2 linked regions of the Homo sapiens genome follow. The protein of the gene in region 1 interacts with the protein of each later gene in a biochemical or structural test. Each region holds a gene or a part of one and is shown in the gene's direction. Other genes may lie near its edges. The genes, in order: GLT8D1 and GOLPH3.

What was found.
Region 2: the proteins of GLT8D1 (region 1) and GOLPH3 form a complex in vitro, tested with the Homo sapiens proteins (one study listed by BioGRID).

Annotation. Positions count from the first base shown.
Region 1 is NC_000003.12:52,695,792-52,712,075, reverse strand, and holds the start of GLT8D1 (glycosyltransferase 8 domain-containing protein 1), read left to right. Parts: upstream 1-6,284; 5' UTR 6,285-6,629; intron 6,630-7,123; exon of another isoform or gene 7,124-7,352; intron 7,353-8,147; exon of another isoform or gene 8,148-8,277; intron 8,278-8,377; exon of another isoform or gene 8,378-8,572; intron 8,573-11,579; 5' UTR 11,580-11,615; coding exon 11,616-11,631; intron 11,632-11,715; coding exon 11,716-11,814; intron 11,815-14,141; coding exon 14,142-14,355; intron 14,356-15,416; coding exon 15,417-15,534; intron 15,535-15,757; coding exon 15,758-15,842; intron 15,843-16,035; coding exon 16,036-16,148; intron 16,149-16,284. Other genes in the region: SPCS1 (signal peptidase complex subunit 1), read right to left, coding at 4,264-4,389, 5,197-5,283, 5,373-5,432, 5,794-5,829.
Region 2 is NC_000005.10:32,155,036-32,171,319, reverse strand, and holds part of GOLPH3 (Golgi phosphoprotein 3), read left to right. Parts: intron 1-16,284. UniProt on the Homo sapiens protein: Phosphatidylinositol-4-phosphate-binding protein that links Golgi membranes to the cytoskeleton and may participate in the tensile force required for vesicle budding from the Golgi.

The DNA of each region.
Region 1 (16,284 bases):
CTAGTTTATTGTTTGTTTGCTCTTTAATTTCTTACGACTTTTCGAAACATCTTGAAGTTTAAAAGTTTTATGTAAACTGAACTATTAGTATTTTCCTGTATGGTTTCCACCTTGGATACCATGCTTAGAAAAGCCCTTCCTCTAAGATTACAGAAATATTTTTTCCTACTACATACTGATTGATTTTCTTTTTGTTTCTCAAATAGGTACGTTTGCGGGAGCACATGGGTGAAAAGTATACAACTTACAGTGTGAAAGCTCGCCAGTTGAAATTTTTTGAAGAAAACATGAATTTTTGAGCATTTGTCCTAATCTGCTGCCAGAATTAAAGACCTATTTTTAGAGGATTTTGGCTTAAAAAGCAAGGGCAAACAGTCATTTGGAAGCCACTCACCACTGTTTTATATCTCTTTTTTATATCTCTTTGGCGTTTCCCTACAGAAAAGAAATTGGACAGAACAGAATAATATGAAGCAGGATCACAAAAGAAAAAAAACTTTGGCTTTCATATTCTCTTTGTGAGGACAAATCTGTTGTTTGTTTGATTACTGTTTACTGAGCCTTAATCCACCAAGTTTATATTTAGAATTTTATTTTTTTAAGGTACTAATTAACTTAAACACAGAGCTATAAAATGCTGGATTGAAAATTTTATATTGTAATGTAGAGATAAAAGCAGTAGGAGAAACAAATGACATAATATGTCGTCATAATTCCTGCTATTGTTAATAACCTTAAGGAGTAGTTGATAAATTATAAAATTTTAAAAAGTCAATTCAGTTCTAGAAATAGATTTAAAGAATATGAAGTTCTATCTAGTACTTGAGCAGCTGTATTTCTTTTCTACACATTGATGGACTTTTAATATTTTATTCTCATTTAATATAAACCTCATCTAGGGTATATACAAATTAAAACTGAGACACATTGGCTTTGTAAATCAGTATGTTTTTACATAATGGTTTTGTTAGATTTATTTTTCCATCAGTGAAAACATTTCTTAAACACAAATTTCATTTCCATTTAAGCAATTTGTAAGCAAAGTCCAGGTCCATTTAGTTTTTGGATATATTTAATGTTTGTCTCCTGAAGTTTGTCTTCATGTACTGTAAGATATTAGTTGTCTTTCCATGTTTTAAATGTATGATTATATAGCACATATTTTATTAGTTGTTTAATAAGAGGTAATACCCATCTAGGAAAGAAATTTTATGAAGTTAAATACAAGTCTTGAATAGTACATTTTCACTTCTGTATTCGAGGGACTCTAAAAATAAATATTGCTCCAGAAATGTTTTCAGGTGTTTTTTTTTTGAGACAGAGTTTCACTCTGTCAGTCAGGCTGGAGTGCAGTGGCATGATCTCAACTCACTGCAACCTCCACTTCTGGGGCTCAAGTGGTATTCCTGCCTGAGCCTCCCTAGTAGCTGAGACCACAGGCGTGTGCCACCACACCTGGCTAGTTTTTGTATTTTTTGTAGAGACAGGGTTACACCACATTGCCCAGGCTGATCTCAGAACTCCTGGGCTCAAGCAATCCACTCACCTCAGCCTCCCAAAGTGCCAGGATTACAGGAATGAGCCACTGTGCCCAGCCCTGTTTTCAGTTTCTATAACTAAAAATATATCTATCTTTGAAAATTACACACACACACAAATACTCTAATGAAATGTTCCCTTTACAGCCACTTAACAATTTTTTTTTTTTTTTAAGACACAGTCTTGCTCTGTCACCCAGGCTGAAGTGCAGTGGCCCAATCTCAGATCACTGCAAGCTCCGCCTCCCAGGTTCACTCCATTCTCCTACCTCATCCTCTCGAGTAGCTGGGACTACAGTTGCCCGCCACCATGCCCGGCTAATTTTTTTGTATTTTTTTAGTAGAGACAGGGTTTCACCGTGTTAGCCAGGATGGTCTCAATCTCCTGACCTCGTGATCTGCCCGCCTCGGCCTCCCAAAGTGCTGGGATTACAGGCGTGAGCCACCGCGCCCGGCACACTTAACAGATTTTTATTTAGAGTTTACTGTGTGCCAGGTTCTCTGCCAGGAGCTGGGGATATAGTGGTGAATAAAACAATACTTCCTGCCCTTTTACAGTGCTCACAGCCTGGTTTCTGATAACTCTTATTTTCACTTTGAAGGGTTTGCTAGAACTCAACTTGCAAAACCATCAAGTCCCAATGCCCAGTTGGGAACAAATCTTTGGCAAACTTGGTATCCTTGAGCTATTCACCTTTCCGTGCATGTTTTGGAAATCCACATCGTTCTGGAGAGTCATCAGTTTTACTTAATTTTTCTAATGTATTGGTATAAAGTAGGTATTTTATTAGAATTAAAGGAATCTCACCCATATCTTTTTTTTTTTTTTTTTTTTTTGAGACAGGGTCTTGCTCTGTCACCCAGCCTGGAGTGCAGTGAGGTGATCATAGCTCACTGCAGCCTTGACCTCCTGGGCTTAAGTGATCCTCCCACCTCAGCCCCTCAAGTAGCTAGGACCACAGGCATGCACCACCACACCTGGCTAATTTTTAAAATTTTTTGTGGAGAGGAAGTCTGTGTTGCCCAGGCTGGTCTCAAACTGCATTCAAGCAGTCCTCCTGCATCGGCCTCTGAAAGTGCTGGGATTATAGGCATGAACCACCACACCTGACTTCCCCCATACTTTCTTATTAATTACCATACTGTATATTTTTATTTTGTTTAAACATCTTTTCTTCCCACTTTTATCGTTTTTACTTGAGTGCTTAATTCATCTTCCTAAATTAATTTAAAAACTCATCTTTAAGACTGTGAATTTTCTTCCGAATATACCTTTGGCCACAGTTCAGAGACTTTGATGTGTTACTCTTTTGGCATTGGTTCTAAAATGTCAATCATTCTTTTTTTTTTTTTTTTGAGATGGAGTCTTCTTGTTGCCCAGGCTGGAGTACAGTGGTGCGATCTTGGCTCACTGCAGCCTACGCCTCCTGGGTTCAAGTTCCCCTCCCTCAGCCTCCCGAGTAGCTGGGATTACAGGCACACACCACCATGCCTGGCTGATTTTCGTTATTTTTAGTAGAGATGGAGTTTCACCATGTTGGCCAGGCTGGTCTTGAACTCCTGACCTCAGGTGATCTGCCTGCCTTGGCCTCCCTAAATGCTGGGATTACAGGCTTGAGGCACCATGCCTGGCCTAAAGTGTCAGTAATTCTGATTTCGGTTTTCTCTTTTAGAAGTTTTGATTTCCACAGACTTACAAAGCTAAGGAAGTTTTATGTCCTTGCTCTGGCTACACTGCAGTGTTACTGAATATCACCTGCACAACCTTTACTGCTTGCAGTTTTTTTTTTCCTGTTGCTTTGTACATGATCCGTTATTCAAATGGCCTTATAGGCATTCAATAAAGGTGAAATGTTAAATACAAAATCACTTGTCTATTAAATTTTATTCAAGGTTCTATATAAGATCTGATAAATGGAACTTTGTGATGGAAATGTTTTATATGGTAGCCACTAGTCACATATAGCTATTGAACCTTTGAATCATGGCTAGTTTTAGAGTTTTATATTTTAATTTTAATTAAATAGACGTGTCTAGTGGCACCATATTGTACAATGCAGTTCTCATTCAATAAATCTTAAGTACTTAACAATGCATCGTGTACTCTTCTATGTACTGGGTAGACAGCAGTGAGCAAAACAAAGTCCCCGTTCTCATGGAACTAATGTTCTAATGACAACTATTAATTACATACCATGAAATGTCTCAAACTCCTGGGCTCAAGTCATCCTCCTGCCTTAGCCTCCTCAAGTGCTGGGATTATAGGTGAGAGCCACTGCACCTGGCCAGAAGCACGAACTTCTAACTTAGGCTTTTATTAATTATCTTCCTTGCAGAATAATCAACAGAAGACCCTTTAGACAAAGAACTTGCACTATGAGGTTTAATTGGAAACATTAAAATGGTTAACTCATAATGAATTATAAAACTTTGATAGTTACATTGTACTATCATTTATGAGGCATTTATTTTTCATTATTTACACCTGAAAGAAACTTCATACTTGTGTGTTCTGTTCCCCATCTCAGAGCAAGATTATGAAGAGAAGGTCTAAACTACTTATATAAATCAAAACCCAACTGGGCTAGAAATGAAGTATAAAGAGAACTAAATCTATACACAGCTGTGCCATAAGAGCATTAGGTGGTTTTAGCTCTTATCTGGGGTATGAAAGCAATTTAGCTCATCTCACAGAAACAAAAGCAGGTGCTGAATCATGAAAACCTCAATTATTTTTAGCATGCCTCTTAATTTTTCTTTCCCCTGGTTTCTTGTCGTCTGTGCTTGATTCTTGAACAGGTAACCACTTGAGAGGATGCCGGCGATAGATGGGCCATGGAGGAAGTGTCAGCTGGGCCAGAAAAGAGGAAATGCATAAATTATAGCTATTAAAAGTTTAAAAAATCATTACGTATAATGCCAGGTTCCCAAATGACTCCTATGCTGAGGGAACAAAAAAACAAAAAAAAAAATCCATATTCCTATAAAGGCTCTGTGCCACCATCCATGCAAAATACTGTATGATGATGGGAACAGGCTCACTGCCTATACAAATGGCTTTAAGACCTAAAAGAAAGGTGGGGGCCAGGCGTGGTGGCTCTCGCCTGTAATCCAAGCACTCTGGGAGGCCAAGGTGGGCGGATTGCTTGAGACCAGCCTGGCCAACACAGTGAAGCCCTGTCTTTACTAAAAATACAAAAATTAGCTGGGTGTGGTGGTGGGCTCCTGTAGTCACAGCTACTCGGGAGGCTGAGGCAGGAAAATCTATTAAACCCGGGAGGCAGAAGGTGCAGTGAGCCGAAATCGCCCCAGTGCACTGCAGCCTGGGCAACAAGAGTGAAACTCCGTCTCAAAAAATTTAAATAAATAAATAAATAAAAGGTGAAGGGACAACGTGAGCACCATGAAAACTCCTGCTGGCTTTGACCTTAAGATTATTAGCCAGAGTAGCCGCCAAAGGAAATAAGCTGTGTCCTTTTATATAGTTCGCACCATCTGACACTATTTTGGCATTCTACTTTTCCAATGATAGCAAAGGGAAACGCTGTTTGGAAGGATGAGGGAAACGTTGGCTTTGGGTCTCACTACTGAGTAGGTCTAACCAAACCAACCCGACTCACAAAACCCAAGCTGCCACTAATACCCACAAATTTCTTACCAAACATGAAAAAGCAAATCCGGCCATAACTATATAGACAGTCCACCCGAACTGTTCAGCCACGTACCCGTAGATAAATCCAACTATCTAGAGACAAATGAAGTATATTAAACACACTCAAACTGAGGGTTGGGAGGGAGGCGGGGGCGGAGATTAAATGTAAAACCAATACTTACTGCAGAAAAAAGAATAATTCCCTGAAACATCTGTTCAGCTAGCTTCTGGCCCTTGTAATCCTGGGGTGAAGCAGAGGAAAAAAAGAATTGGTTCCACCGCCGAGAACATACAATTCCTGCCCTGACCTCACAACTCTGGCACAGGGTAACCCCAACATCAGGGTCTCCCGCTCTCCTAAGGGCCTGGGCAAGATATTAAATTCTGGGCTTCCCGGGAGGAACTGAAACACCCTCACGGAGAATGGACAGGAGATTCTCGCGGAGTAGAAGAGAAGGGGACCCAGGAGGCAATTCGGGAAAGAGGGTGGACGGTAACCATCCGGGCCCGGAACAGCGCAGCACCGGGTCGGTGCTCCAACATGGGCTTCGAAGCTGCCAGGCACAAGAACGGCGTGCAGAGGTCCCCGGGTTGCGCCCTCACCATCTGCGTGGGCAGCGAGCTCAGATGCTCCAGCATGGCTGGCTGAGGAGGCGGGCAGCTGAGCGCGGGTGGCAGGCTGCGAGGCGAGGGCGACCGAGACTTAAGGACCGTGAGGGGTAAGGTCTGGCACTGCGCGTCAGTAGCCGGGCCTTCTAAGCCCGGGAGAGCGATGGCGGCGGCCCCGGAAGCGGAAGTCTCCGACGGGCCGGTACAGCCCGTGTCCCCGCCCCGCGCCATCGCTAGGCGACGTGCGCTTTTGCCGCGCCGTGCTGCCCGCGAGGGCAGCTGAGGTGGTGGTGGCGGCCGCCTTGTCGAGGCATCGCGCGCCCGTGAAGTGTTCGCCGTCAGTGCTGTTGGGTGCCTGGAGCCGCGTCCCCCGTCCCGAAAACTGTCCTTGACAGTACTTGCGCGGCCCAACGGCCGCCGGCGCCCCCGCGTCTCCATGGCGACGGCCTTTTTCCCTGCGAGGACCCCGGCGGCAGGGCTGCCCCGCGGCGCCTGCTTGGCGCGACGCTCTAGCGGTTACCGCTGCGGGCTGGCTGGGCGTAGTGGGGCTGCGCGGCTGCCACGGAGCTAGAGGGCAAGTGTGCTCGGCCCAGCGTGCAGGGAACGCGGGCGGCCAGACAACGGGCTGGGCTCCGGGGCCTGCGGCGCGGGCGCTGAGCTGGCAGGGCGGGTCGGGGCGCGGGCTGCATCCGCATCTCCTCCATCGCCTGCAGTAAGGGCGGCCGCGGCGAGCCTTTGAGGGGAACGACTTGTCGGAGCCCTAACCAGGGGTATCTCTGAGCCTGGTGGGATCCCCGGAGCGTCACATCACTTTCCGATCACTTCAAAGTGTAAGGGGGGCCCTACTGACCCTTGGAATTTAGGGGGGCTACCCTAGGCGGCATCCACAACAGAGAGAATTCCCTTGGAGAGGGGACCCTGGTGCTCGGCTGTCCCTCTCATCCGCGTAGAAAGTCCCTCATCTGGGGGCTCCCGAACTCAGCCCTCTCACATTGTGGCCGGCTTTACTGACCCTCACAGACCCAGGCTGGGCCCTCCCGATAGAGGCCAGCCAAAGGTTCACTCAGCCTCTCTTTCAAGGCTGGTGTATCTCTAAATCTTAGACCCTCCTCCGTTACCGTCAGCCAGGTGGGATGCCCACGTTTTGGAGAGAAACCGTTCTGAGGAACCCGGGCCTCTGGGTCCCAGCTGGCTCTCCGGCCCCCAGGTTATGTATTCTGGGTTGGCCACAAACAGTGGAATTCTAGGCACTCCCGGGACAGGGTGGGACTGCTGTCCTCATTCATGCAACCAGCAAATATTCACGGCACCTTGTTTGTGCCAGACAGCAGACCGAGGACACGGTTGTTACCAAGACCAGGCTGTTGCCTTGGAAGAGCCCAGAGCGTGTCAAGGGAGACAGCCACATCACGCCAGAAATACATGACAGCTGGATTAGCCCTGGGAGAGGGAGGCCCAGATGTGGGAGCTCAGGGGAGGTGCAGCTCAACGTGGAGTTTGGAGGAGGCTACCTTGACCTTTGAATGCCAAGTGGGAGCCAGCCAGATGAAAGGGTAGGAGAAAGTGTTTGTATATCCTCAGTGCCCTTTCATCCTTGCACGTGGCAGAGACCAAACAGTAAAATGCAGACACGTTTGACACTTTTCTGACCTCAGAAGGACTCAGGACGTGTAGAAGGCAGAAAGAGGGATGGGCAAGAGTTTATTCCTGTTTCCTTCTCATGCTCTGTATTTCTTGGTGTGTTTGAAGAGACTTTCTGTTGTGTGTATAAATAGATATATCTCTGTGTGGTCTTTTTTTTTTTTTTTTTTTTTTTTTGAGGCGAAGACTCGCTCTGTTGCCCAGGCTGGAGTGCAGTGGTGCGATCGCGGCTCACTGCAACCTCCGCCTCCTGGGTTCAAGGGATTGTCCTGCCTCAGCCTTCTGAGTAGCTGGGATTACAGGCATGCGCCACCACGCCCGGCTAATTTTTGTGATTTTAGTGGAGACGGGGTTTCACTGTGTTGGCCAGACTAGTCTCAAACGCCTGACCTCAAGTGATCCACCCACCTCGGCCTTCCAAAGTGCTGGGATTACAGGCATGAGCCACCGCGCCCGGCCAGTGCGGTCTTTTTTTTTTGTATCCACAGTTTTGTATCCTTGGATTCAACCAACCACGGACTGAAATTACAGATACAGAGGGCTGACTGTAATATGCCATTTTACATAAGGGACTTGAGCATCCGTGAATTTTTGTATACATGGGGAGTCCTGGAGCCAATCCCCGACTGATACTGAGGACCAACTGTGTTGCTAATCAAATTGTACACAATTATATACTCTTACGAAAATGTAGTTAACTATTACAGATCCAGCGTCTGTGTGCAATTTCGTTTTGAGAATTCCTTCTAACCAGATCAGGAAAGCTCTCTTACCAGGAATAGCCCCAGGAAAGACAATATGGATTAGACGTACTCCATGATAACTGGCGTTTTGCATGTAGGTAACTGTGGAAGTTTTAGGAGCAACTGGTTTCTGCCTTGCCAGTCTACTTAAGTATGTCAGATACTTGATAGAATTGTGTTTTTCTTGTTTCCAGCCAAGTGTGCCTCTTGATCCCGTAACTGCTAACTGGAAGTCAAGAAACTAAAAACATTATCTCTTGTACCATTAATTAAGTGGGATTTATTTGAGTGCAAGATCGTTTTCTCAGTGGTGGTGGAAGTTGCCTCATCGCAGGCAGATGTTGGGGCTTTGTCCGAACAGCTCCCCTCTGCCAGCTTCTGTAGATAAGGTCAGCCCATAATGTGATAGAGGCATATGACTTAGGGTATATACTGATGTATATACTTCTCTTTTTTTTTTTTTTTTTTTGAGACAGAGTCTTACTCTGTTGCCCAGGCTGGAGTGCAGTGGCACGGTCTCAGCTCACTGCAACCTCCGCCTCCCGGGTTCAAGGGATTCTCTTGCCTCAGCCTCTCAAATAGCTGGGATTACAGGCACCTGCCACCATGCCTGGCTAATTTTTTGTATTTTTAGTAGAGATGGGGTTTCACCATCTTGGACAGGCTGGTCTCGAACTCCTGACCTCTTGATCCACCTGCCTTGGCCTCCCAAAGTGCTGGGATTACAGACGTGAGCCACGGCGCCCTGATGTATATGAGAAGAAGTTCACTGACACGTTGTACTTCATATATACTGCTTTGGAAAGGTGTGTGTGGGCTGGGCCTGGTGGCTCAGGCCTGTAATCCCAGCACTTTGGAAGGCCGAGGCAGGTGGATCACCTGAGGTCAGGAGTTCGAGACCAGCCTGGCCAACATGGTGAAACCCTCTCTCTATTAAAATTAGCTGGGCGTGGTGGCGCACACCTGTAGTCCCTGCTACTCGGGAGGTTGAGGCACAAGAATTGCTTGAATCTGAGAGGCAGAGGTTGCAGTGAGCCAAGACGGCACCACTGCACTGCAGCCTGGCTGACAGAGCCAGACTCTGTCTCGAAAAAAAAAAAAAAGGAAAGAAAGAAAGATGTGTATTTTCCCCCTAATTTGTAATCTGGCCTGTGATCCCATTTTTAAAAAAAATTTTTTTTAGATATGGGGTTGGGGGATGGTCATACTATGTTGCTCAGGCTGGTCTGGAACTCCTGGGCTCAGGCAGCCTCCCACCCCAGCCACCTGAATAGTTGGGATTATGGGTATCAGCCACAGTGCCTGGCTGATCCACAGTTTTTATTGCTTTTTATTTTTTATTTTTTTGAGACAGGGTGTCGCTTTGTCACCCAGGCTGGAGTGCAGTGGCATGAATATGGCTTACTGCAGCCTTGACCTCCCTGGCTCAGGGGATCCTCCTGCCTTAGCCTCCCAAATGCTTGGGACTACAGATGCACGTCACCATGCCTGGCTAATTTTTGTATATTTTGTAGAGATGAGCTTTCACAATGTTACCCAGGCTGGTCTTGAACTCCTCAGCTCAGGTGATCTGCCCGCGTTAGCCTTGTTGTTTTCATTTTGGGATTATAGGCATGAGCCACAGTGCCCAGCCCCCAATTTTTTAAACAGTTTTTCAACATATTTCTCTTCTTTACAAAGGCCTTGAGAAATTAAGTGCCTGGTAGGCACACAATTTTCCCAGGATGAAGTTAATTCAAACTTACTTTGTCTGTAGTCCCTGCTACTTGGGAGGCTGAGGCAGGAGGCTTGCTTGAGCCTAGGAGTTAGAGGCCAGCCTGGGCAACATGGTGAGACCCTGTCTAAAAAAACAAATGAACTAACTTGCATTGCAATACGCTATGTTTGAAAGTGCTTTGTAAAATTAATAGCCTTATGTAAGGGTTGGGTACTACTATGGGTGAAGATGAAGTAAGAAAGGGTTAAAAGGTAGGTTCACGATATCTTGGTTGGTAAAATGTCTTTAAGGAAACATTTTATCCAGAGCTTGTTGAAGGAATTTATTTTTTAAATAAATTTAGTTCCACCTACTATCTTGTTTCCACTGAATTGTTTTGAAAAAGTGAAGGTCAGATGAGCTGAGGAGGACCAACCAGGACATTGTGACAATTAGACACCACCTTCTTAAGAGATGAATAGCTAGCTAACAGAGATGGTTTTTGAGAATAGCACCTTAAATGTTTTTTTGGCCGGGCGTGGTGGCTCACGCCTGTAATCTCAGCACTTTGGGAGGCTGAGGTGGGCAGATCACGAAGTCAGGAGTTCGAGACCAGTCTGGCCAACATGGTGAAACCCCATCTCTACTAAAAATACAAAAATTAGCTGGGCGTGGTGGCGCACACCTGTAATCCCAACTATTGGGAAGGCTGAGGCGGGAGAATCGCTTGAATGCGGGAGGCAGAGGTTGCAGTGAGCTGAGATCATGCCGCTGCACTCCAGCCTGGACGACAGAACAAGACTCCGTTTCAAAAAATAATAAACTAAAATAAACCTTTTTTTTTTTTTGCTAGTTACAATGGCTAGAAATGTACTCCACACTTTTGATATCGATTGGATTTTGTGAATTTTTGTAGCTTTTTCTGTGCTGTGGGTTTGTCAAGTGAATTTGGATAATATTCTTTTCTCTGAGGACACTCATGTTAAAGGTGAATGGGATACAACTCTGAACAGGCATGTTTTTACTGATGAGGCTAAGACCTCAGGTTACTTGGTCATAGACAACGTGAATCCATGTCTACTTTAGGAATTTTAAGTAGAAACTTAATTATGTTATGTAATTTTTTATTTTAAAGACAGAGTCTCACTCTGTCGCCCAGGCTGGAGTGCAATGGCATGATCTCGGCTCACTGCAACCTCTGTTGCCCAGGTTCAAGCGATTCTCCTGCCTCAGCCTCCTGAGCAGCTGGGATTACAGGCCCCTGCCACTGCACCTGGCTAATTTTTTTGCAGTTTTTAGTAGAGACGAGGTTTCACCATCTTGGCCAGGCTGGTCTTGAACTCCTGACCTCATGATCCACCCCACTCGGCCTCCCAAAGTGCTGGGATTATAGGCCAGACCCTGCCTGGCTGAAACTTAATTCTTAAATGTTTCTTTTGCTTTTCATCTTGTGATGTATAATGTACAAGGCTAAGGCTGTTTCTCCAACTTATTTTTAAGTTTTTTATTAATGAGTACCACAAAAATTTCAGATCCCAAATTGGGTTCTTGGGAACTGTGAATTCAAAATGAGTTTCTGGCGGAATACTGTATATGCCTCTTGTTTCTTCCTGAATTAAAAAAAAAAAAAAAGTGTTAGGGCATTTTGATGTCCCTTCTCATGTGCTTACTGACTTTGGGGGCTTGTTTTTGTTTTGTAGGGTTAAAAACTAATATTTATATGACAGAAGAAAAAGATGTCATTCCGTAAAGGTATGCTCTTTCTACAAGTTAAGTTGTTTTTATACCTGGTCAAAGATAAAGAGGTATAACATAGGTTTTCCCTATCTATTTCAGTAAACATCATCATCTTGGTCCTGGCTGTTGCTCTCTTCTTACTGGTTTTGCACCATAACTTCCTCAGCTTGAGCAGTTTGTTAAGGAATGAGGTTACAGGTATGCGAGCACTTATTAATAATGCCTTAGAATCTGTTGCGGACCTGGTATTCTCTGTGTCACACATCCTAAGTTGTTCTTCTTCCGGTAGTACTAGCAGTTGTTTGTTAAGGGTTTGATCTGACAGAATATTCCTTTTCACCAAATCAGAGGCCTTAGGAGAGCCTCTGAGGGCTGCCATCTGTTCACATGTCAGCAGGACAGGGCTTCAGAAAGTGAGGGCATACCAGTGTCCTTGGTGTTTGATGCCTGCTCTAGTCACTAGAGTGTCAGTCTAGTTACTTTCCTTCAGCTGTGCAGCTGCATCAGTGGGACTGTAGCAATAAAAGTTTGTCAAGTGATTTTTAAAAATCACTGTGTTGTATAATATATCGCACAGTATATTGAATTAGTCGTTCATACTGTTCTCCCTTGGTACTGAGAAATGTTTGAGGCTTGAGTGTTTGTCAAAAATCATTTTTGGATTGCCACCCACCATAGCTGACCAGAGTGAGAGACTGTAATAGCTTTCCCCTGACTTTCACGGAGTGCTCTGATAGCATGTTTTATCACGTGTATATATGTATGATACATATAAAGTAATGCATGTTCCTGGTAGGAAAGTTTATAAAAAAGAGAACAGCGGCCGGGAGCAGTGGCTCATGCCTGTAATCCCAAAACTTTGGTAGGCCAAGGTGGGCGTCTCACAAGGTCAGAGATCGAGACCATCTCAGCACTTTGGGAGGCTGAGGTGGGCAGATCACGAGGTCAGGAGTACAAGACCAGCCTGGCCAACATGGTGAAACCCCGTCTCTACTAAAAATACAAAAATTAGCTGGGCGTGGTGGTATGCGCCTGTAGTCCCAGCTACTCGGGAGGCTGAGGCAGGAGAATCGCTTGAACCCAGGAGGCGGAGGTTGCAGTGAGCCAAGATCACGCCACTGCACTCCAGCCTGGTGACAGAGTGAGTCTTCGTCTCAAGAAAAAAAAAAAGAGACAACAGTATTTAAGCTCCATGAAGGCAATTTGTGTACTGTTTTATCTTCTGTGCCTATGGATGATGGCTGATACTAGCTGTTCAATAAATATTAGTTGGTTGAATGATTTCATTTACAATTTTGGCTTAGTACCTTCCAGTTTTTTCCTACACATCTTTTTTTCTGTACAGTTGAGATTGTACTATATATAAACTGTACATGACATGTTTTTCTGTATATCATGTCACTGTGATGGTAGAAACTCTTCATACATAATCTTAATGTCTATTAATTTGTTTCCACAGGATAACATCTTTTGCTACAACAGCTTTCAGACTTTTTGATGGCAGCCCTACAATAGGAAATACATTACATGTAGCACATGTACATACATGTGTATTTGCTTATTGGCTGTCTATCCTCAGAAAGTTAGGGATGTTTTATTCATGGCTGTAACCCCAGTGCCTAGATATTGCCTGGCACATAGTAAATACCAGGGTTCAATGAGGAATAAAAAAAAAAAAATGAAAGGCAAGAATGCATACAGGACAGTAATTGCAGTTTCCTTGTGTGATACACTATGTTTTCTTTGGTATTCTAATTCAGTTTTCTTTTTTTTTTTTTGAGATGGAGTTTTCCTATTGCTGCCCAGGCTGGAGTGCAGTGGTACAGTCTTGGCTCACTGCAACCTCCACCTCCCGAGTTCAAGCGATTCTCCTGCCTCAGTCTCCCAAGTAGCTGGGATTACAGGTGTTCACCACTACACCTGGCTCATTTTGTATTTTTAGTAGAGATGAGGTTTCACCATGTTGGTCAGGCTGGTCTCAAATTCCTGACCTCAAGTGATCCACCCGCCTCAGCCTCCCAAAGTGCTGGGATTACAGGCGTGACCTACCATGCCCGGCCTCTATTTCAGTTTTCTATTGCAATCCAGAAACTTTTTCTGTATAAATTGATTGTGACTCACTCAATTGGTTTCATGCCTACTTGTGATTCGTGACTTGAAAAACATTGATTTAGTTTGCTGCTAAGTTTTCACAATTTAAATAAAATTCTTTCTTTTGATTATATTTCAGATTTTGTCCTTAGGAAACTCTTGATACAAATTGCCATAATACATTCTAACAGGTTCTGTTATTTTCCTACCAGTAGTGTACCAAAGTGCTGTCAGTGTATTTTAAAAAATGCTTCCTCCACTTTTCCAAAAGCTTATTTACATACAGGGAAAGTTTCAGGGCTATATGCTTCAGTTTAATGGGGGAGAATGAGGTAGATCAGTACCATAATCCTTACCTTCCCTTTTTCCATGTCTTGGACTCTATATCAAAAGCCCATGAGATTGTAATCACAGTGCCTTCCTTGTGTTTTCAGATTCAGGAATTGTAGGGCCTCAACCTATAGACTTTGTCCCAAATGCTCTCCGACATGCAGTAGATGGGAGACAAGAGGAGATTCCTGTGGTCATCGCTGCATCTGAAGACAGGCTTGGGGGGGCCATTGCAGCTATAAACAGCATTCAGCACAACACTCGCTCCAATGTGATTTTCTACATTGTTACTCTCAACAATACAGCAGACCATCTCCGGTGAGCTCTGCTTATGTGATTCTGCTTCTAGAGGATGATTTAGAGCAGGCCAGCTGCCAATCCAGGATCTGTTTTTCTGTGGTTTGTATGTTGTTTTATACAATTGAAATTGTACCAGTGATAAACTGTACAAATGACATATTTTTTTTAGGACTGTATTATGAGCATATCCCCATAATAGGAGAAGTGATACAAGGAGCTCATGCCAGGAAGTAAGTCAGCTGTCACTCTGAACTGTTAACCCCACCTGATGGTGTTTTGATAATAATACTTTCTCAGTGAAGGGAGCAGTAAATGTTGATTTACAAGTCACAAGTTCCTTATTTCATGGACATGCTCGGAGCAGTTCTGGTCTAGAGTGGGAAGGGACTTAGCAACAATGGCAAGGTAGTGTTGTGATGCTGATCACAGATCCTGATCCAAATCCTGGCCCAGAGTGATCTGGGGAAACTTGGATAGTCTAATCCATTTTGAAAATGAATAAGACTTATAAAACTTACTCCAAATTTGTTGGTCTAACAAATTAACCAGTTGTCAAATTTCTGAAACATTTTGGTCCTTGTGGCCCTCTGCATGGTTCATATTTAGTTTTTAAAGCTGTAAATTCTGAACGCATTTAAAATACAGAAACAGAAGCTGTATAAAAATAGACTACAGAAATAACACTAAGTAGCCACAAAACACTGATTTGAAACTGACCTAGAAAAAATGTGCAGTACTCCTTTAGCAAACAGTTTTTTCTTACAGGTAGTGCCTCAGACTTGAGTGGTGGAATTAGGGTCACCACAGTTAAGAGTTGGATAGTCCAGGTGGTGATGAAATGTTCTTAATTCTATAGTTTTTCTAGAGTAGTTTTAGTGTTAGAAGATAATTACCATACAATCTTAATTCAGGGAGGGACTTTGGTGGGAATTACCCTCACTTCAGACGAGGAAACCAAAGCTCAGAGATAAAAGGAGCTTGAAAACACCTATTTGGTCCATAGGGTTTCTTTTGCATTATTCCCTCATTGGTTTGGAGACATTATTTGAAACTAAAATGTAGTGTTTTATCTTCATCAGGTCCTGGCTCAACAGTGATTCCCTGAAAAGCATCAGATACAAAATTGTCAATTTTGACCCTAAACTTTTGGAAGGAAAAGTAAAGGAGGATCCTGACCAGGGGGAATCCATGAAACCTGTGAGTTCCATGCATCCTTCTTTGCACTTGGCAGTATTAGGAAATAATGGAATACCTGGGTATCTGTGGGTATAGTGCAAGTAGTTTCCTGGGGACCAAGCCTGGGTGGTTCTAAGAGTCCTTTCTTCTCCTGAATGGGTACTGAAAGCATCCTAGGAGTTTCTGTGTAAATAAAAGCACAGCTAGTGCGGTATCCTATGCCAATTATTCTTTCCTTTTCCAGTTAACCTTTGCAAGGTTCTACTTGCCAATTCTGGTTCCCAGCGCAAAGAAGGCCATATACATGGATGATGATGTAATTGTGCAAGGTATCAAAAATGTCACCATGAGTGCTGTTCTCCACCCAGATTGGGTACAATTGCTAAATAAAACAATGGGCTACAGTGGGCTGTAGTGGTTTATTTATGGTCTTCTATAAAAGGTCACCATAGGGAGAAGTGGGAGTAACAGGGAACTCTCAAGGCAACGGAAATGTAAATCTTAACATCTTGTCTATTTCAGGTGATATTCTTGCCCTTTACAATACAGCACTGAAGCCAGGACATGCAGCTGCATTTTCAGAAGATTGTGATTCAGCCTCTACTAAAGTTGTCATCCGTGGAGCAGGAAACCAGGTAAATTGCTTACCAAACACCCCTCTTCCTACAATATTGTTTAATGGGAAGAGGTTGCAAATTCAGGGAACTCTTTTGCTGCAATTTACACTCCCCAATCATTTCATCCCAAAACTCAAGCCTGCTTTTCTGTAGA
Region 2 (16,284 bases), on another chromosome or scaffold:
TAAAACATTATGAAATTTTTTTTGCAATTTTTTTTTTTTAAAGCTCATCAGCTATTGCTAGTGTTAGTGTATTTTATATATGGCCCAAGACAGTTCTTCCAGTGTGGCCCAGGGAAGCCAAAAGGTTGGACACCCTTGCTCTAAATGTTTAAGGTGAAGCATATTAACATGCTGTTTTTCGGTGATTGGGTCTTAAGAAGATAATCTAAATAATTTGTTGAAGTTTAACCATACTCACATAATTTAAACAATTTAAAGTTATTTGGCGGGTAATTGAAACCATGTGTTCTGTTTATTTTGCATCAAGAGTCACTCATTATACTTTGCTAGTCATGGCTAAGGTCCAGATGCTTGCTAGCTTATTGTGAGCATTTCTTCCTGATTTCAGCAACCACATGGGGAAATTTTTTCTCTTTTTTTTTAGGCAAGTCCAGAGAGTTGAGGGGTGGGGTTGAGACTACTGGGATTTTGTATTGCTTTAGGTTTTGGTTTTAGGGATTAGCCTATATATTTTTTCCTTTCATCACATCTTTAAAATTTTTTTTTTTAAGAGATGGAGGTCTCAAGATGTTGCCCAGGCTGCACTCAAACTCCTGGGCTCAAGTGATCCGCCCTGAGTAGCTGGGAATACAAGGTGCATGCCATCAAGCCAACTCATCATGTCTTTACACTCTAATAACCAGCCCTGTCAACTTATCTGTTGGTATGTTTTTCCCTTGGGAGGCTCGCCACCATGTTTTTAACCTATAGTACTCTTTTTAGGAGGCAGGAATTGCTGTCTTACCCTGAGCCCAGGCGTTTATGCTAACTCATTGCTTTAACTGATTTTTACTTCAGCATTTATCTTTTTAATGTCTGGATTCTCCTAAGAACTTTAAAAGCTAAACTTTACATTTAAGCAAATCATTAATGTTGGAAATATTTTATATATGTGAGCTAATAACCTTATGTGAATATACTTGTTAAACCAGTACCTAGAGCAAGAAACAGAAGCCCTAGCCCTCCACTTGAGTATCTTTCCAGTCACTACCCATTCCTCAGGGGTAACCACTGGCTTAATATTAGAATTCAGCATAGATTAATTTTGCCTAGTTTTTTGTACTTTGTGTCTGCTTTTTGTTCAATGTGAGATTCATCCATATCGTGTGAGATTGTCCTTTGTTCTTATTGTCTTACCAATTTATTTTTAACATGTTTATAATCTATAATATTTAAAAAATTACTTTGACATATTCTGAGTCAAGTCTCCCTCTCTTTTTTGCTGAACAGAAGGTTCAGTTTTTGAATAAGCAGATGGTCTGGCTTCAGATTACCTGTTAGGAGTGAGTCTAAAGTCATTGTGATTGATTTTTTTTTTTTTCTTTACACATTTCAGATTTTTTTTTTTTAACCAATGATATTTGTTTTTTGCTTTTATAAAACAGGGATGGCTAGTCCCCTCAGAAGATTTTCATGCTCACTTGGGCAGAGAATCAGTGCATAAGTATTTAAGTAACTCTTTAAAGACCACAGTAAGGATGGCAGATAGTTTACACCTAAATTCAACTGCCAAGTAATTAGCAGTATTTCTTTAATTGACCCAGTGTTTGAGGGGGAGGGACAGCAAAAGTGCCAGGTATTTTCCTTTCCCTGTGTGTGTTTATTCTATAGATGCTTTCCATAGAATATTTTCAGGATGCTTTATTGAGAATTACCACAAATAACTGGTGTCATATATGTTTGAATGTCTTCATTGGTGGCAAATCTTAGTCTTTTAAGGTTAGATTTAATTATTTTCAGTGGCCAAGTATAATTTGGAGTATGCCTATGGAACAGCAGAAGCAGAGAGAGGCTCTATAGTCCTGTCCAAAGTGTATTCTTTGGCTTTTACATATAATTTAAGCCTTCTGAGCTTCAGTGTTTTCATGTATAATGGAAAAGTAGTCATTCCATATGATGGTTCTGATTGTACTGCTGTGGATGTTTATTAACTCCTCCCCAGGTCTTCGCTTTATTTTGTATTACTTTAGGGTTTCCCCATAGTGTGTTGCCTGTTTTTGAGACAGGGTCTTTCTTTGTCACCCAGGCTGGAGTGCAGTGGTGCGATCTTGGCTCACTGCAGCCTCAACCTCTTGGGCTAAAGTGATCCTCCTGCCTCAGCTTCCCGAGGAGCTAGGACCACAGGCACACACCACCATGCCCAGCTAATTAAAAAAAAATTTTTTTTTTATAAAGACAGGGATTTCACCACATGGCTCAGGCTGGTCTTGAACTCCTGGGATCAAGTGATCCTCCCGCTTCAGTCTCCCAAAGTGCAGGTATTAGAGGCATGAGCCACCGCACCTGTTTTTTTTTTTGTTGTTGTGTTTTTTGGTTTTTGTTTTAAGACAGATTGTGCTGTGTCGCCAGGCTAGAGTACAGTGGCGAGATCATAGCTCACTGCAGCCTCGAACTCCTGGCCTCAAGTGATCCTCCCGCCTCAGCCTCCCAAAGTGTTGGGATTACTGCGACCGGCTCTAGGATGCACTCTTGAAGCATATTATTCCCCTGCTGTTTTGTCATGCAGCCAGACTTGTCCAATCATATGTTTTCTTTCAGGGCTTTGGATCTTGAGAGAATAACGAGCTGTAGGGTTTTTTGGAGACCTTTCCAGAGTCATGTCAGCGTGTGGATCAGACTGTTCTTTGGCATGGTTCTTTGAGCTGCTTTCTCTGGTCTGTTGGCACTGTTTTTTTCCAGTCTGATTTTCCAGTCATCTTTCAGTGTTGTGAGTTTCAACAGCCTTCCAGTAAAGTTGCTTTTTAAAGATAGCCAGAGTCAGTTACTAATGTTTCTAATGCTTGTAGACAAGAACTGTAATACAGTAACTTAACTCTATGTCTTGAAAAATAAGTAGGTACTTGAGGTAAATAATATGTAATGGGGTAAAATACTTAAGATTAACCAAAATGATAGAACTGACTTTTGTGTGGCTTTTACACAGGCTCCAAAGATGTTTTCCATTTTTGGAATAAGGTTCCCAAGGTCACTACTTTGAAGTATAATAGTGATGAAGATGTATAACTTAACAAAAATTGTTTTCCTTTCTATACGTGTGGTGATGTCCACCATCTCTACATATCAAATCTGTAAATCAGAAATTCAGTCAACAAGTATTCAGAATTTCCAGATGTGCTGAGTTTTAGTAATTTAAAATATAATAAAGGCTTCTGAGTTTTTAATGAATTTTCGTTGTTTCTAAGACAAATGATATTTCCTTCATATTTTTTGAAGTTTTGAATTTTTATCTATTTTTTTCAGGTGTTTAAACACAGGTATGAGATATACAGGATCTCAGAAATTACTTTTGAAGTTCATTAAACTATTTGATTGTACTTTTTTTCTTTTGAGACAGGGCCTAGCTTTGTCTTCCAGACTGGAGTGTGGTGGTGTGATCATGGCTCATTGCAACCTCGACCTCCTGAACTCAAGCAATCCTCCCTCCTCAGTCTCCTGAATAGCTGGGACTATAGGCGCACCCTATCATGCCCAGCTAATTAAAAAAAAAAATTTTTTTTTGTAGAGACGTGGTCTCACTATGTTGCCTAGTCTCGAACTCCTGGCCTCAAGCAATCTTCCCGCCTTGGCCTCCCAAAGTTCTGGGATTACAGGTGTGAGCCACCACGCCTGGTCTGCTTATTATACCTTTTCAACAAGATTTTATACTGTTGAAATTACTTTTTAGTGCTTTGGGATTCTTTTACAATATGGTCAAAATATTCACTAACTCATCTCATAAGTTATACTAATATTTGATATTTGTTAATTTTGGACTACCTGAGAGTTCTTGTATGGAGCATTTGAATTACGTTTTAGAATTGTATTTTGAAGGCTGGGTGCGGTGGCTCACACCTGTAATCCCAGTACTTTGGGAAGCCGAGGTGGATGGATCACCTGAGGTCAGGAGTTCAAGACAAGCCTGGCCAACATGGTGAACCCCTGTCTCTATTAAAAATATAAAAATTAGCCAGACATGGTGGCGAGCACCTGTAATCCCAGCTACTCGGGAGGCTGAGGCAGGAGAATCACTTGAACCTGAGAGGCGGAGGTTGCAGTGAGCCAAGATTGCGCCACTGCACTCCAGCCTGGGCGACAAGAGTGGAACTCCATCTCAAAAGACAAAACAAAACAAAAGAATTGTATTTTGAAGTTATTTTGATAGATTTTGAAATATTTGGGGGATTTTTTTGATATTTAAAGAAATACACTTTTATAATATCATCTTACATGTAAATCTTAAATACCCTGGAGGCATCAGGCATTATGCTTGTTCTGGTACATAATGTTAAGCTTTTGGCTGTACACTTTTTTATGTCTTTGCAAACTCCCCCCCCCTTCTAACAGCATAACTTTTCTACTGCCATTAATCAGATTAAATAGTATAAAACTATGCTGTAGTCTTTGTTTAGAGGATTTATCTTCATGTTGTGAGTCTCCCTTTGAAGCAGCACAAAAAGACAGTGCTTGTCCTCCTCCTGCTTTTTTTTTTTTTTTAAGATGGAGTCTTGCTTTTATCACTCGGGCTGAAGTGCAATGGCACCGTCTTGGCCCACTGCAACTCCGCCTCCTGGGTTCAAGTGATTCTCCTGCCTCAGCCTCCCAAGTAGCTAGGATTACAGGCGCCTGCCACCATGCCCAGCTAATTTTTGTATTTTTAGTAGAGATGGGGTTTCACCATGTTGGCCAGGCTGGTCTCGAACTCTTGACCTCAAGTGATCCGCCCACCTCGCCTTCCCAAAGGTCTGGGCATGAGCCACTGTGCCCGGCCATGCTGCTGCTTTTTAGTAAGTGTCCTGACAAGTGCCAAAAGTGGAAACCTGGCTTCATTTTGAAATTGATGTTTTTGGCTTCAGGTTTCTCTTATCAAAGCTGGGAAGACTGCAACCTGTTTTAATAGCATTGTACAGTATTACAATGTAATCTAGTACATTTTGAGGTTTTTGACTTAGGTATTACAAATATATTTAGAACATAGGCTATTTCTCTTCCCGTTTGGTAAACCTCTCATCTGCAAAAACACAACTAATATTAAAGTACAGTGTATTGCCAACAAGGATGTTTCTGGTCACTTTTAAGAATAACATTTTAAACAACAACAAAAAAATTTACTTATTTTTAAACTTAATGCATTGTATTTGATTTACATATTCCTTTAATGGAGAAGTTCTTAAATTGGAGTGAACAGAGCTGAGAAACTTTGTGAATTCTCTGCAGTTGTGTGTTTTCTTGGGGAAAGAGGACAGAACTTTCATTAGATACTCAAAGCATTTAGTGAATCAGGAAGGTTAAAAATTACCAAACAGGAACTGTTTGTTTTAGCTTAAGGTTTTCGTCTTTTCTTTTTCCTTCCTGAAAATTAACTACAGAAAATTCCAGGTTTCCAGGGTTGTAGCGAGTTGAATTTTAAGTGATTTGAGATACGAAGTCCACATTTCTGTGGCCTGTCTAGAGGTTCTCATCTTGCTAAATGACATTTAGAAGCAGCATAACTGCTTCTAATCTAGGATTACCACACATCTAGGATTCTAACAGTTTTCATCCATTCATCAAATGTTTACTGAGCACATGCTCTGTGAGAGGCCCTTTACTAAGTACAAATTCACTGAAGAACATGTCTGTCTTCAAGTTCATTCATTTTAGTTCTGTGTGTCAAAGCTCATATAGTAAACTACAAAACTAAATTATGTTGCTGTTCTAGAATTTTTTTTTTTTCTCTTCTGAGACAGAGTCTTGCTCTGTTACCCAGGCTGGAGTGCAGTGGTGCAATCTATGCTCACTTCAACCTCTGCCTCCTGGGTTCAAGCGATTCTCCTGCCTCAACCTTCTGAGTAGCTGGGATTACAGGCACTCACCACCACACAGGGGTACTTTTTGTATTTTTAGTAGAGACAAGGTTTCGCCATGTTGGCCAGGCTGGTCTCAAACTCATGACCTCATGTGATCCACCCACGTTGGCCTCCCAAAGTGCTGGGATTACAGACATGAGCCACCCTGCCTGGCCTGTTCTATAATTTTTTGATGTCATATATTTCAGGCTGGCATTTGGCAGTCACTCAGTACAATGACATTACTCACATTAAGAATACATAATTTACCTAACCCTGGCAGGTGTGGTGGCTCATGCCTATAATCCCAGCACTTTGGGAGGCTGAGGCAAGGGGATTACCTGAGGCAGGGAGTTAGCGACCAGCCTGGCCAACATGGTGAAACTCCATCTCTACTAAAAATACAAAAATTAGCCAGGCAGGGTGGTATGCACCTGAAATCCCAGCTACTCGGGAGGCTGAGGCAGGAGAATCACATGAACCCAGGAGGTGGAGGTTACAGTGAGCTAAGATCATGCCACTGCACTCCAGCCTGGGCAACAGAGCAAGACTATCTCAAAAAAAAAAAAAAAAAAAGAATACATAATTTACCTTATTAAGTAAGCTAATATTATTTATTAAAGTAAATTTACTTATTAAATAAATTTACTTAATACATTTACTGTATTAATTAAGTAGATTACTGGCTTTATTAAGTAAATTATGTATTCCCAGTGTGGTAATGTCATTGCCAAGGGAGTGAAACTTGGTTCTGGGCGTGGTAGTGAAAGAATCGTACTCTTGGCCGGGCGCGGTAGCTCACCCCTGTAATCCCAACACTTTGGGAGTTGAGGCGGGTGGATCACGAGGTCAGGAGATGGAGACCATCCTGGCTAACATGGTGAAAGCCTGTCTGTACTAAAAAAATACAAAGAAATTAGCTTGGCGTGCTGGCGGGCTCCTGTAGTCCCAGCTACTCGGGAGGCTGAGGCAGGAGAATGGCGTGAACCCGGGAGGCGGAGCTTGCAGTGAGCCCATATCGCGCCACTGCACTCCAGCCTGGGCAACAGAGTGAGACTCCGTCTCAAAAAAAAAAAAAGAATCTTACTCCTCTTATGTATAAAAAGGCACACTTACAGTGTACAAACAAATATGTATATTCCATCATATTAAAATTTCATGGGGGAGAAGATAATGAGGAAAAAATCTGGAAGTACTTCTTAAGGGAACAGTGATGAAATAAAGGGTGAGAAACATTGAAATAAGTCACTATGGAAAATTATAAGCTTGTGCTTAGTTGAGGTTTAGAAATCTTTTTCTCTGATAGGAATTTTTATTGCAATAGAATTTGGCTTGTAGTTCAGTAGGAAGAGGAACAATTTTAGCATACTGAACTGCGTGTAGGAACTTATGAGTTAAAGTTTTAAGGTAAAAGTTATTTTTATTGATAATATATAGGCAAACTTTGTATTCCACCACTACCTTCTGGGACAGATTAGAAATTAAGAAACTGTATGTAAAAGTTGCTAATGGTTATTTTTACTCTGGTTTCATTTTCTAGTTCCAGTTTCTTAAATGGAAATGCTAAACAGTTTATACCGTATTAACAAAATAACCTCAGAAATAACACTTAAGAACTTAAATTTCAGTTCAGTCACTGAATGGAGTATACCATTTAATTTTTGTCTATACCATGTTGTGTAGCTAAAGTGAAATTAGAGGTTATTTAGTATTTATATGTTCCGTTTAATCCAAGTATTGAACAGCTTCTCTGTGCCATTCATTCCCTTTGCCAGATGCTGGGGTTACAAAGAAAAAAAATATATATATATATGTATATATTTTTGAGACCAAGTCATGCTCTGTCGCCAGACTGGAGTGCAGTGGCATGATCTTGGCTCATGCAACCTCCTCCTCCTGGGTTCAAGCAATCCTTGTGTCTCAGCCTCCCAAGTAGCTGGGATTACAGGCACATGCCACCATGCCCAGCTAATTTTTGTACTTTTAGTAAAGACGGGGTTTCACCATGTTGGCCAAGCTGGTCTTGAACTCCTGGCCTCCCAAAGTGCTGGGATCACAGATGTGAGCCGCTGTGCCCCCGGCCACAAAGAAAAATTTTTTGCTTTTAAGGAGCATTCAGTCTGCATAGAAGACAGATTTGCGAATGATTTCAATAAAGTGAATTATTAACTTTATCCTGCCTGCCTCTTCTGAGTTACTAACTTTTATGGGAGTATGTGTTAGGTGCAGTAAGGATGTACATAGGGAGGATGCTTTGGATCAGGACCTGCAAGACTGCTGTGTTCTTGACACCTAGCCTTGCCCTTGAGTAGTTGAAAGAATTAGAATAAATATTTTGAATTTTAGAACCTTAGTTTTCTCCTGGGCAAAATGGGCCTACTTTTTTATTTTTTATTTTTGAGACGGAGTCTCGCTCTGTCACCCAGGCTGGAGTGCAGTGGTGCAATCTTGGCTCACTGCAAGCTCTGCCTCCCGGGTTCACGCCATTCTCCTGCCTCAGCCTCCCGAGTAGCTGGGACTACAGGCGCCTGCCACCACACCCGGCTAATTTTTTGTATTTTTGGTAGAGACGGGGTTTCACTGTGTTAGCCAGTATAATCTTGATCTCCTGACCTCGTGATCCGCCCGCCTCTGCCTCCCAAAGTGCTGGGATTACAGGCGTGAGCCACCGCGCCCGGCCATGGGCCTACTTTTGTGTTCTGTCCGAAAGCCTCTAAGTTGTAGGGATCCAATGTGTTGGCATATGTGAGTGCTTTGAAAACCACATGGTGCTGAACAAATGCAAATGGGTAATTACCTAGCCTAGAGAAGTAAGTTAAAGTTTATAGTGGTCTTGACAAGTGACAAGTATTTAATATTTCCATTATTTTTACTATTTCTTGATTCTCTTGCACTTTATATGCTGGGCTTACTGAACGTTTTACTCAAATTCAGATGCTCATCTATGCGTGTATTTTTTTAAAAATTTTAATTTTTTTTTTTTTTGAGACGGAGTCTTGCTCTGTTGCCTAGGCTGGAGTGCAGTGGCCCAATCTCTGCTCACCGCAAGCTCCGCCTCCCGGGTTCATGCCATTCTCCTGCCTCAGCCTCCTGAGTAGCTGGGACTACAGGCGCCTGCCACCACGCCTGGCTAAATTTTTGTATTTTTAGTTGAGACGGGGTTTCATCGTGTTAGCCAGGATGGTCTCTATCTCCTGACCTCGTGATCCGCCCACCTTGGCCTCCCAAAGTGCTGGGATTACAGGCGTGAGCCACCACGCCTGGCCTTAAAAATTTTAATTTTTATGGGCACATAGTAGGTGTATTTATCTCTACCTTTGTTCTGAACCTCTGGTCAGTTTCCTTTTTGTAATTCCTGGCAAAACTGGTTTGGGAAATTTGGAAACTTGAAGTACCACTTGACTTCTGATTTTTATTTTTTTATTTTTTATTTATTTATTTTTCTTTTTTGAGACGGAGTCTCGCTCTGTCGCCCAGGCTGGAGTGCAGTTGTGCGATCTCGGCTCACTGCAAGCTCTGCCTCCCGGGTTCACGCCATTCTCCTGCCTCAGCCTCCCGAGTAGCTAGGACTACAGGCGCCCGTCACCATGCCCTGCTAATTTTTTGTATTTTTAGTAGAGGCGGGGTCTCACCGTGTTAGCCAGGATGGTTTTGATCTCCTGACCTCGTGGTCCGCCCGCCTCTGCCTCCCAAAGTGCTGGGATTACAGGCGTGAGCCACCGTGCCTGGCCCGACTTCTGATTTTTAGGTCAAGCCCAGAGTCTTCCTTAAAGAATCCTTGGGATTGGTTCCATGATTCCTCTTTTCCAGATACTGCTTAGCCTCCAGACGTATCAGTAGCCTCCAAGCCTCCAAAATGACTCCAGTCACAATTAAATAAAATAGCACATGTAAAGTGCCTGATAGTTGGTGCACAATAAATATTAAGTTTCATTACGCCTTGATGCTCCAAATCAGAAAACTCAAAAGGCCTTGACCTCTTCCAGCCCTTGTGGTCAGCAGTTCTCTCCACCTTTCCATATTCTCAGCTTTGGTTTTTTTTTTTTTTTTCCTCAGCTTTGGTTTTTTTTTTTTGAGACAAGGTATGCTCTGTCACCCAGGGTGGAGTCCAGTGGTGTGATCTCTGCTCACTGCAGCCTCAAACTTGCTGGGCTCAGGTGATCCTCCCACCTCAGCCTTCCAAGTAGCCGGGACTACAGGCGTGCGCCACTATACCTGGCTACTTTTTGTATTTTTTGTAGAGATGGGGTTTTGCTGTGTTGCCCAAGTTGGTCTCAAATTCCTGGGCTCAAGTGATCCTCCCTCCTCGTCCTCCCAAAGTGCTGGGATTACAGATGTGAACCACCGGGCCCAGCCTCACCTTATCTTTTTGATGCCACCCAATTTTTTTTTTTTTTTTTTTTTTTTTTTGAGACGGAGTCTCGCTCTGTCACCCAGGCTGGAGTGCAGTGGCGCGATCTCGGCTCACTGCAGGCTCCGCCTCCCAGGTTCACGCCATTCTCCTGCCTCAGCCTCCCGAGTAGCTGGGACTACAGGCACCCGCCACCACGCCTGGCTAATTTTTTGTATTTTTAGTAGCGACGGGGTTTCACTGTGTTAGCCAGGATGGTCTCGATCTCCTGACCTCGTGGTCCGCCCGCCTTGGCCTCCCAAAGTGCTGGGATTACAGGCGTGAGCCACCGCGCCTGGCCCATGATTACTTTTTTAGGTCTTCATGTTTGTGTTAGTGGATCCTTATATGTAAGGCTCTGCCTTTTTCTACCTAGCAGCCAATTCTTAGTTATTTCTTACTGCCTAGTGAGACTCTTCACCTTAATCTAACTTCTTAGTTGCTCTCACATCCTTTTTGCCTACCATTGTATCTCTAGCATCTAGCACAATGCCTAGTATTGCACAAGTGTTTGTCTTTAGAATGAGTGAGGGGACACCATTTTATTTATATCAGTATTATGATAATCACATTGAAATTGTAATTATTATTTCTTCCTTTTCATTCTATGCCTTTGTATATTAGTCATCTTTATCACCTCTGTTTAGTAATGTCTTGGCACTCAGTAGAGTTTATTGAGTTAAAATTATTCTTGAAATATATTACTTCCAGCTGGGTATGATGGCTCATGCCTGTAATCCCAGCACTTTGGGAGACCAAGATAGGAGGATTGCCTGAGTCCAGGAGTTCGAGACCAGCCTGGGCAACACAGCAATACCCTGTCTCTATTTTAATAATAAAAATGTATATTAAACAAATAGAAATTTATTACTTCCAATAATTTTTTTTTCCCCAGAGTCTCATTCTGTCACCCAGGCTAGAGTGCAGTTGTATAATCATAGCTTACTGCAGCCTTGAACTCCTGGGCTCAAGTGATCCTCCCACCTCAGTCTATTTTGAGAATTTAAATAATTACAGTTTTTGCTTTATGCAGCATTATGCCTCAGCCTCCCAAGTGGGAATGATTTTCTGCTTTTAGAAAATAATGCAGAGGCCAGTATCTAATAAATGTTATAGTGACTTGATATAAAACTTACATAGGACTTGTCAAAATGTCCTCAACTTAAAATACTTACCCACAGTATGATGCAGTAGTAAAAGTGCTGTATCTAGAGTCACAGCTCTGGGGCTCGAGGTATCACTGCTCTAGAGTGTGAATGTAGTCATATTTCTTACTTTCTCTAAACCTCAGATTTTTCAAATGTAAAAAGGTGATGATATTTTACTAGGTAATTGTAGAACCTAGATGATAATTTATAAATGGCTTTGCAAACTGAAATGTTATTCTCTTGTATTAAAACCTTCGTGTTTCTTACAGAAGAATAAAGACTGTAGCTTATATTTAGGTCTTACTAACAAGATGCTGTTAAATATACTTTAAAAAACCACTAGTGAAAAACCCTTAAAAATTCATTTGCTTGAGAGGGAGTGTCTGCTCACACTTTGTTTTGTGCTCTCTGCTGTGAAGTGATCAGTGGCAGGTGTGGAAAGAAAAAAGTGATACCAGTCAAGCACCCCAGTCTGAAAATCTGAAATTTGAAATGGTTCCAAAATTTGAAACCTTTTCAGTGCTGACATGATATCACAAGTGGAAGATTCCATACCTGGCACACTTTGTTTCATGCTCAGAACTATTTAAAATATTGTGTAAAATTACATTTGGCTATGTGTATAAGGTATATGTGAAACACAAATGAATTTTGTATTTAGACTTAGGTCCCATCCCTAAGGTATCTCATTATGTATTTGCAAATATTCCAAATCTAGAATCTGAAACACTTCGGGTCCCAAGTACAGGGATACTCAACCTGTACCCTCTTCTGTTTCAGGGGGCTGAAAGGAAGCACACCTAGATCATGCATTAAATAAACAGGTCTTGGAAGGCAAGACAGAAAAGGAGCCAGGGCTTTGGAGCCAGGCAGACCAATTTCATTCCCTGCTTTGCCACTCAGTGCGTGGCAGGTCCTCTGAGCCTCAGTTCCATTATCTTGTGAAATTGGAAGAATAGCACCTACTTTACAAGGTTTCCTAAGAATTAGAAAGAATGTACACTGAATGCTTAACACAGTTTTAACAGCATAGATACTCAGTGTATGGCAGAGTATGACTGTGTGCACTTTAAAAAAGGATTTGGAAGGATACATTCCAAATGTTAATGGAGAGTATCTTGAAGAGGGAATGTGTGAGGGATGGAAGCGGAAGAGAAAGTAGAGACTTTTAATTTTCTGTCATGTATTTCTATTTGAATTTTTTTTGAAAATAAGTGAGAGTACCTGAGAAGTCTGTGTAAGTGGCCAAGAGCACTCCGTTGGAGGAATAGGCAGCAGAAGAGTAACCTGACAAAGAGCCCGAGCAGGAGCTGCCAGAAGAGGGGGATTGTGGAGCCAGCAGGAGGAAGAGTGAGGAGTAGTGGAGATGGACTTGCTGATGATACCTTCGAGTCTGCTGTGAATGGAAAGGAGATAGGGCAGGGTTGGTCCGGGTCTGTCTCTTGTATGATGGTAACTGTGAGAATATTTGAAGGCCAATAGGCAGGTGCTAGTATACATGTTAGAGATTTAAGGTATTTTAGGAGGGCAGGAGTTGTGAACAAAGGGAAGTAGGAGAGAATGGGTAGGATTAGCTTTAGGCAGACTGCACTGTAACGAGACAAAAGAGTGGGTATGTATGAAATTGAGTTTATTGAGTTGGTTTGTTTTTGTGAAGTAATCTGCTGAAAATGAGCTGAGCTTTAGAGGTTTGGGGAGAATGGGGTTTTGAAATATCTGATATGGAGAGTGGTAAGAGCTCTGAGTAGGGAAACTGATTTTGCCGTGTGTGTGTGTGTGTGTGTGTGTGTGTGTGTGTGTGTGTGTATTTTATTTATTTATTTATTTATTTATTTATTTATTTATTTTGAGACAGAGTTTAAAGCTGATTTTGCCCAGTGTGTGTGTGTGTGTGTGTGTGTGTGTGTGTGTGTGTATTTTATTTATTTATTTATTTATTTATTTATTTATTTATTTATTTTGAGACAGAGTTTAGCTCTTGTTACCCAGGCTGGAGTACAATGGCGTGATCTCGGCTCACTGCAACCTCCTCCTCCTGGGTTCAAGCGATTCTTCTGCCTTAGCCTCCCAAGTAGCTGGGATTACAGGCATGCACCACCATGCCCGGCTAATTTTGTATTTTTAGTAGCGATGGGGTTTCACTATATTGGTCAGGCTGGTCTCAAATCTGCTGACCTTAAGTGATCCACCCGCCTTAGCCTCCCAAAGTGCTGGGATTAGAGGCGTGAGCCACTATGCCCAACCCCAGTATCATTAAAGGTTTAGTTTAAGTTGGAGACAGTACATTTATATACTGAGATTTCAATATTTTTTTACATCAGCAGTTCAGAAACACAGGTACAGATATGGAAAAAGTGACAGTTGGATTGATCCGGGGCTGGAGTTTTGCTAGTTGAATGCAGTGGGAAACAATGGATGTGTTTAGGAAACTAGTAAGGGTGTAGTTGAAGGTAGTGTACTCTGGCGTTGTTTGCCCATCTTTGAATTGGGATTGATAATAATAGCACTTAGTTCAGAAGGTTGTTGCGAAGGTTGAAATGAGCTCCCACAGTACTTAGTACTCAGAACAGTGCTTTGCACATGGTATGTGCACAGTAACTTATTGTGCTGGGTGGGGATGAGGGAAAGAACGGAGGAGACTGGTGGGAAAAAGGGAGGAAGGCTGAGGATTGGAATCCCCATAAGGATGATGAAAAGTTACTTGTGGATTGAATTTCCGAGTTGGATTTGGTTCTCATCAAAAGGTTGTGGGTTTAAGGATGCTGATGTCCAAGTTCCCAGGGAGTGGCAGATAAGATCCCTGGTTTTGAGTGAAGACCATGAGAATAGAGGCCCTGAGGGCCCTGGCTGTTACTTCTGTGAAAAAATACATTCTGTGTTACAAATTGCTTAAAAGGGAACTTTTAAAACGTAATCATAACTTGATTACTACCAGTAACTTACACATGTGGATGGCACCCAAATCCAATCATTATTTAGTTACTTTACTGGTTTTGTTATCTGTCTTAGTTTATTTGGGCTGCTGTAAAATACCATAGACCAAGGATCTCTAATCTCCGGGCTATGGACCGGTACTGGTCTGTGGCCTGTTAGGAACTAGGTTGCACAGCAGGAGGTGAGGGGCGGGCAAGCGAGCATTACTGCCTGAGCTCCGCCTCCTGTCAGATCAGCAGCAGCCATTAGATTCTCATAGGAGTATGAACCCTGTTATGAGCTGCGCATGTGATGAGGGATCTAAGGTAGGCGATCCTTATGAGAATTTTAACTAATGCCCGATAGGATCTGAGGTGGAACAGGCTCATCCCAAAACCATCCCCCCCGCCGCTCCAGTCCGTGGAAAAAATTGTCTTTCCTGAAACCAGTCCCTGGCACCAAAAAGGTTGGGACTACCACAATAGACAGTGTGACTTATAAACAACAGATTTTTTTTTTTTTTGAGACAGAATCTCGCTCTGTCACCCAGGCTGGAGTGCAGTGGCGCAGTCTCCATTCACTGCAACCGCTGCCTCCCAGGTTCAAGTGATTCTCTTGCCTCAGCCTCCCAAGTAGCTGGGATTACAGGTGCACACTACCATACCTGGCTCATTTTCTATTTTTACTAGAGACAGGGTTTTATCATGGCTGAGACCACCAGGCTAGTCTCAAACTCCTGACCTCAGGCGATCCGCCCACCTCAGCCTCCCAAAGTGCTGGGATTACAGGCATGAGCTACTGTGCCCAGCTAACAACAGGAATTTATTTCTCACAGTTCTGGAGTCTGGGAAGTTCAAGAACAAGAAATTGGTGAGGGCCTGCTTCCTGGTTGTCTTCTCATTGCATCCTCACATGGCAGAAGGGCATAGGGACTCTCTGGGGCCTCTTTTATAAGGGCACTAATTGCATTCATGAGGCTTCTGCCTTCATGACTTAATGACCTTCCAGAGACCCTGTTGGGGGTTAGAATCTTTTTTTTTTTTTTTTTTTTTTTTTTTTTTTTTTTTTTGAGACAGTGTTTCACTCTTGTTGCCCGGCTGGAGTGCAGTGGCTCAATGTTGGTTCACGGCAACCTCCGCCTCCTGGGTTCAAGCAGTTCTCCTGCCTCAGCCTCCCAAGTAGCTGGGATTACAGGCATGCGCCACCATGCCCCACTAATTTTATATTTTTAGTAGAGACAGGGTTTCTCCATGTTGGTCAGGCTGGTCTCAAACTCCCGACCTCAGGTGATCTGCCTGCCTCGGCCTCCCAAAGTGCTGAGATTATAGGCATGAGCCACCGCTTCCGGCTAGAATCTTAACATGAGAGTTTTGGGGGGACACAAACATGTAGTCTATAGCCTTACTCTTTTGCTAATTAAAAAAATCAGAAAGCTGAGGGCTTTCTTTAGTCATTTGAAATGCTTAAGGGGAGTTTTTGGCTTAGTTTTTTTGGTAACAGCTTTATTGAGATTTAATTGACAATTCACTTATTTAAACAGTACAATCCAGGATTACATGCCTGTAATCCTAGCACTTTGGAGGAGACCAAGGCAGGAGGATTGCTTAAAGCCAGGAATTTGAGACTAGCCTGGACAACGTAGTGAGATCCCATTGCTAAAAAAATAAAAATAAAAAGCCGAGTGTGCTGGTGCCTGCTTATAGTCTCAGCTACTCAGGAGGCTGAGGTGGGCAGATCATTTCAGCCCAGCAGTTCAAGGTTGCAGTGAGCTATGATCAAGCCACTGCACTCTAGCCTGGGTGACAGAATGAAACCCTGTCTTTAAAAAAACAAAGTAAAAGGTAACAATGCAGTGACTTTTAGTGTATTTAGAGTTGTGTATCCATCACCATAATACATTTTAGAACGTTAATTTTTTTTTTTTTTTGAGACAGAGTCTTGCTCTGTCGCCCAGGCGGGATTGCAGTGGTGCGATCTTGGGTCACTGTAA